Regions from separate parts of the Homo sapiens genome. Here region 2 is linked to region 1. The links come from fine-mapping of genetic effects on plasma protein levels. A gene starts in region 1. The other region holds a variant in brackets. All regions are shown on one strand. Distances are between the middles of the regions.

Region 1 (2,901 bases):
TTTAAATCAACGTATGGCTCCGGTTCAGTGAAGGATACTAGTACTTAAGGTCACAGCACTTGCAGTTCTGTCATTATTTGCTCACAGGACTGACTCCTTTGCCCAATCCAGGGCAACACCAGACGGCAGGTACAATGTGTGTTTTGCTCTCCGCCCAAAATCTAACCCAGTGGAGGGCAAAATATCAATCCAAACAATGTGATTGACAAATAAATGTCTGCCGAATGAAATTTCAGATTCTCAAGCCGTTTGTTTTCACAAAAGGGAGGGGAAAGGGAGGAAAGCAGGACCTCCTACTCAGCCCAAGTGCAAAGACCGATGGGGGGCGTTTCAGGAGATAGCTCCCTCCTCCTGGCCCAGAGACCCGCCCAGACCAACTGGCTCCAGGGAACTGATGGCAAACCAGCATTCAACAAACCCAGACGCAATTAAGTGACACTGCCCCACTCCAGCCTGGTTCTCCCCAAGAGGGAGAACACAGACCGAAGAGAACAGGGGGCTTCTTTCCCCACCCACTTCCAACCAGAGAGTACCAGGCCACTCCTCACTGGTGATCCAAAAGGCCAGGGTATTGGGAGATGGAAGTGTTTCAAGCAACTCAACCCACACTTTTCTCCTCCCATTTGCCCAGTGTCCTTGCCACACCCAAATGGAAAAGAACGGGAAAATCTGGGTTGGGGGGAGGGTGCCAGGAACAGGAAGTTCCCTGGAACTTCAGGGGAAAAGGACCAGGATGGTCCTAAAATAAGGGAGCGCATAAGTTATGGAAAAGATGGGGAAGGAGGCCACAATATCTCATCACACACCCACAGCGAAACGAAGGCCAAACCCCAGACCTGGGCCGGCAGGCACACCCATTCCGACCTCTCTCAGGGATGCCTGGAGTCCCCCCCACCAAGTGTAGCAAACTACTCTTGGAGTCCACTCCTTTTCCACTTTTGTAAGATTTTGCAGTTTACACAGCTTCCTCCACTGAGACCTCATCCGACTCTCAGAACCACCCTATGGGGGTAGCTTTGCCTTTCTATATCATGCATGAGGAAACTAGCTCAGATACATTAAATGAACCGCCGCGTCACACAGCTAGAAAGTGGCTGAGGCTCGAGCCCGCCTCAGTTGGGTGTAGGAGCAGCTCCTCCGCCGGGGCGGGCTACGTCGACCCCACCCAGCCCACCGAGCCTGGCCTGTGGGCGGAGGCCCAGGTGGTGGCCCGCAGTTTCCCAGACGCCTGGGGCCGAAGCCAAGAACAAGGTGGCCCTAAACCAAGGTTTCCGGCAGTGCAGGTAGTAAGCACCCCCATCCCACCCCGCACTCACACAGGTGCAGGGCTCGGAGTCTGGAGCGGAGCTCACCCCGCAGCCCGCCGGCGTCCTGCCCGACCGGCTGTGCCCCGACCTGCATCCCCGCAAAGTTGTGGCCGTGGCGTAAGCACCCTGCCAGGGATCTCCCGGCGCCCCACAGCTGCCTCCTGCCCCTGCGTCCGGGAGCGCTTGGCGGCGAGGGCACCGGGACGCCCGCTGTCTCCCGCGTAGCACCCAGTGCCCGCCTGCCTGGCATGCACGCCCTCATCCCGGTGCCCCGGGGCAGCTCCCCGCACGTTCCGCAGAGGGCTGGAGCAGAGAGCGCAGAAGGGCACGCGGGACACACGTGCTGGCCCGGCCCGGATCCCTGCCCCACAGTCTCACCCAGATTGCCAGCAGCAGCCACGCCGGCCCGGCCCGCGCCATCCCAGCAGCGCTGCCCACCGCTGGCTCCTTTCTCCACTCCGGCGCCCGCTCCCGCCCGCCCGCCTGCTAGCTCCACCGCGGCCAACCACCACGGCCACTTCCCAGCCGCTCCCCGCCTCCGAGTTCCCGGTGCCACGTCTGCCAAAGCATGCGCAGCAGCTGGGGAGAGGCGGCCGGGAAGAAGTGCTCGCTGGGAGTTGTAGTCTGCAGCCTGGCTCAGCTGGGGGCTGCGGGTGCGGACTGGGCTCCGAGGCCACGTGGCAGCGAGTGAAGTGCGAAAAGGCAAGGTCAGGGAGTAAGGGAAGGCAATTAATGAGCGGGGGCTTACTCTGTGCCTGGAGCTTCAGAAACAGTATCTCACGCAGCTCACAGAAATTAGGTTTTATTTTCTCCACTTTGAGGATTAGGAGGCAGCGCAGGGAATTTAAGTACGTTGATCCAGATCACACAGCCGGTAAATGGCAGAGTCCAGGGCTGCCTGTGAAGGACAGGAAAAGCCCTCATCCCTGCCTCCCAGACTCCCTCCTGCTTATTCTATTTAACTTCAGTAAAACATTATTGAGCTGTTGGAAAACAATCTGGTGGTTCCTCAAAAAGTTAAACATAGATTACTATATGACCAGCAATTCCACCCTTAGGCTAATACCCAAAAGAATTGAAAACAGGTATTCAGACAAATGCACGTACACCAGTGTTCACAGCAACACTATTTACAATAACCAAAAGGTAGAAACAACTCTAACGTCTGTCAAAGGATGAATGGGTAAACAAAGTGTGATACATCCATCTAATGGAATGTTATTTAGCCATTAAAAGGAATAAAGTGGCCCAGCAGGGCAGCTCATGACTGTAATCCCAACACTTTGGAAAGCTGAGGCAGCAGAATCGTGTAAGACTAGGAGTTTGAAACCAGCCTGGGCAACATAGCAAGACCTCATCTCTGCTAAAAATAAAAATAAAATAAAATAAAATAGCTGGTGTGGTGGCAAGGGACTGTAGTTCCAACTACTTGGGAGGCTAAGGCGGGAGGATTGCTTGAACCTGGGATATGGAGACTGCAGTGAGCCAAGATCATGCCACTGCACCCCAGCCTAGGCCACAGGGTGAGACCCTGTCTCAAAAAAAAAAAAAAAAAAAAAGGTGGGGGGGAGAGAATAAAATGCTAATACATTCT
Region 2 (2,901 bases), 47 kb before region 1:
ATGGTCACACTCCTCTCCTAGTGGTGAAGACCCACAGCCTTGATAGGGGGCCTTGAACTCCTGGACTCAAGCGACCAGGAAGGCCAGGTCCCAAACATCCACTAAAACTTTAGAGTGACCTTAAACTCCTTCCCTTAAACCAGAGCAGACCACATTTCAGCACTGATCCCACAGGACATGAGCAGTTTCCTCAGACAGCAGGGATTCTGAAGTGCCAGGCTATTACCCTTTCCGACTGCCTCTCTGCTACAAAACAGGGCTTAAGATGCATCTGAAGAGCACAGAACCAAAGCTGCCTGGAACCATGTGTCAGGCTGATCTCAGCTTGGCACAGCGGGCACAGGGTCCATGTGGCGACAGGCAGCCCAGCTCCAATCCATGCTTAGCTGACGCCTAGACAGGCCGTGAAGCCAGAAGGCCAACATTCCTTCTGGGCCACCAGAACCTCCCCAGCACCAAGCCTACCGGACAAGATGCAGACACAGGACATTTGGCCATGAGGCTCCAAAACTGCCCCACAGCCCCCTCCTGACATTCCTGTCTGACAGATGGACTCACACACACCCCAGTACGCGAACCCTGGGCTTAAGTTCTGCCATCAGTCCTGGCAGGAGAAAAGGAGCTGTTTCGAGGCCAGCCTGCAGCGCGAGCCCGCCGAATCTGCCCTCAGAAGATAAGAGGCACCTCTCCTCAGGACCTGCCACCTCAGTGCGAACACCATCAGTGGCATGAAGGAAGGAATATGACACTTGTCAGGGGCATTGTTTCCATTGTGGGGATTCAGAAAGAGGAGAACAGAAGCAGGAACAACGCTCAGGGGGAAATGCACCGGGTGGAAAACAGGAGGCTGCAGATGGCGCAGAGGAAGGAGCTCAGCTCTGGGAAGAACAAGGCTGAGACCGAGGTCTGCATCTCCCCATAACTCCCACTGGCTGGGTGATCTTGGGCAAGTGGCCTGGGCTCTCCAAGCCTCGGCTTCCCTATCTGTGCAGTGGGGATAGGTGCCCTGCAGGTGTTAGATAGAGCCGGGGAACATTCAGTGCCTGCAGAGACATCTTAGTCCAATGCCAGGATTTGGGGGGGTGCTTCCCAGTCCATGGTGGGGGAAACACTTCCACTGAGGGAAGAGGATGTCGCTGCACTCCCCAGGAGGGAAAATAAGGGGGGACACCTGCAGCCTTTCACTCATTCTTCGCTCAGTGACTTCAGTCTGACCCCCACTGGGCCACATTCATCTATCAAGAACTTTATTTACTATCTGTCTCCACAGTGTGGCCTCTCTCTTCCTGTTTC[G/A]CCTGTTTGCAGCCTGCAGCAATAACACCCTGAAACAGAGGATAAGTCGGCCAGTTGTCCCTGTGGGCAGGGCCAGTGGTGCTGGGTGGAGAAGTTATTGGTTGGGGAGAGGTGATGCAGGAGGAGTAGGAAACCACAGGCCAAGCCAGTTTCCAATTTAACTTTACCAAAAATAGGGCTGGCCCTGTGCTTCCTGAGTTTATCTTCCAGCTGATTCCACTGGGAGGCAGGGGGAGAGGTAAGACTAATTATCATTCTCAAACCTCAAAAGTCAGAGTAGTCAGCCTTTTTATTTTCTTATTAATTCAGTGAGCAAACATTTCCTGAATAAGCGGTAGATCCTGGGGAGCCAGGTTCCTTGTCACCACCAAAGGTTCTCACTGCCTTTGGGCCCATTCACCCAACATGTGACCAAAGGGTCACAGAGTCCTAACAGACGTCCCAGTTAGGGAACTGCTGTGTATCCCAGGAATCAGCTGAATTATGATGCCATGGAGACTTGATTAGACTAGTGTGCTAAAAGCACAAGTTTGTTTCATTTTGTAAAAAATCATACACACGTGCATAATCAAAAAAAGGGTCCCGAGGTTCCTTGGGACCTAGGAGTGCAACCGATCTGACCCTCCACCAAAAGTTGAACTTAACCTCCGAGTTTTCTCCTCCCTCCCCTACCACCAATAAGCTTTGTGACTCTGTGAGGTACCTAATTTCCCCTGCCCCAGCTTTCTCTTCTGTAAAGATGATAACTGTGCTCACCTCTCTGTCGTGAAGGATGGGATGGGCACACTGCCACACAGCCTGGGTGCATGGCGGGAGAGGGCACAGCACACGGGCGCAAACTGCCCGTGCACACTTCTAAATGACTAATGGCATCACACTGAGACCTGCCTGGTTACACCCGGATGCCGTCTTGTGGCACGCACTGCATATTGATATACACTCCATTTTACAGCTTCATTTAACCAATGTGTTGAGTCCTGAAGGGCTTTAAGATATACCAAAGGAGGCCCATCCTCTAGGGGCTGTGTGGACAGAATAATTCCTAAAGCAATTCACAGCTGGGTAGTTAGTAATATTCCTCCAAGAAGAAACAAAAAGGGGTGAAACCAACTAATGAACATTAATAAAGAGAAGGAGCGAGGGTTAAAGTAGCTACCATTCAGGGCAGAGCTGGATCTACAGCAAGTGAGACACCAGGGCCTCATCCCAAAGGTAAGCACAGCCCTGGGGCCAGCGAGGAGGCCTGGGGAGGAGGCTGGGGCTGGAGGACACCCAGCAATCAAAACAGGGCTTGGGGGGCCGGGCACGGTGGTTCACACCTGTAATTCCAGCACTTTGGGAGGCCGAGGTGGGTGGATCACCTGAGGTCAGGAGTTTGAGACCAGCCTGGGCAACATGGTGAAGCCCCATCTCTACTAAAAATATACAAAAATTAGCCAGGCCTCATGGCGGGCACCTATAGTCCCAGCTACTCGGGAAGCTGAGGCAGGAGAATCATTTGAACCATTTGAACCCGGGGGGCGGAGGTCGCAGTGAGCTGAGATGGTACCACCACACTCCAGCCTGGGCAACAGAGCAAGGCTCTGTCTCAAAACCAAAAAAAAAAAA

Direction of the effects. Alleles are on the strand shown, and positions count from the first base shown. The strength of an association depends on the size of the effect and on how common the allele is.
With allele G in place of A in region 2, the plasma level of the protein whose gene starts at base 1,867 in region 1 is higher (strong association).

The links. PIP is the posterior inclusion probability: the model's chance that the variant is causal. The UK Biobank Pharma Proteomics Project read protein levels with antibody pairs (Olink). The fine-mapping took linkage between variants from a reference panel, not from the people measured, so its PIPs are less certain.
Region 2: its variant is fine-mapped to the plasma level of the PDIA5 protein (UK Biobank, PIP above 0.99).

The regions. Positions count from the first base shown.
Region 1 is chr3:123,065,991-123,068,891 of GRCh38, reverse strand. It overlaps PDIA5 (protein disulfide isomerase family A member 5), which reads right to left and starts at 1,867. Exons shown (of 17, transcript NM_006810.4): 1 at 1,686-1,867. The coding sequence starts at 1,727. RefSeq lists a silencer at 1,573-1,812.
Region 2 is chr3:123,112,549-123,115,449 of GRCh38, reverse strand. The region is part of intron 7 of PDIA5 (protein disulfide isomerase family A member 5); the gene reads right to left. Among named protein-coding and RNA genes, the nearest start is that of PDIA5, 47 kb to the right of the region's middle. The variant G/A (reference allele first, on the strand shown) is at 1,294.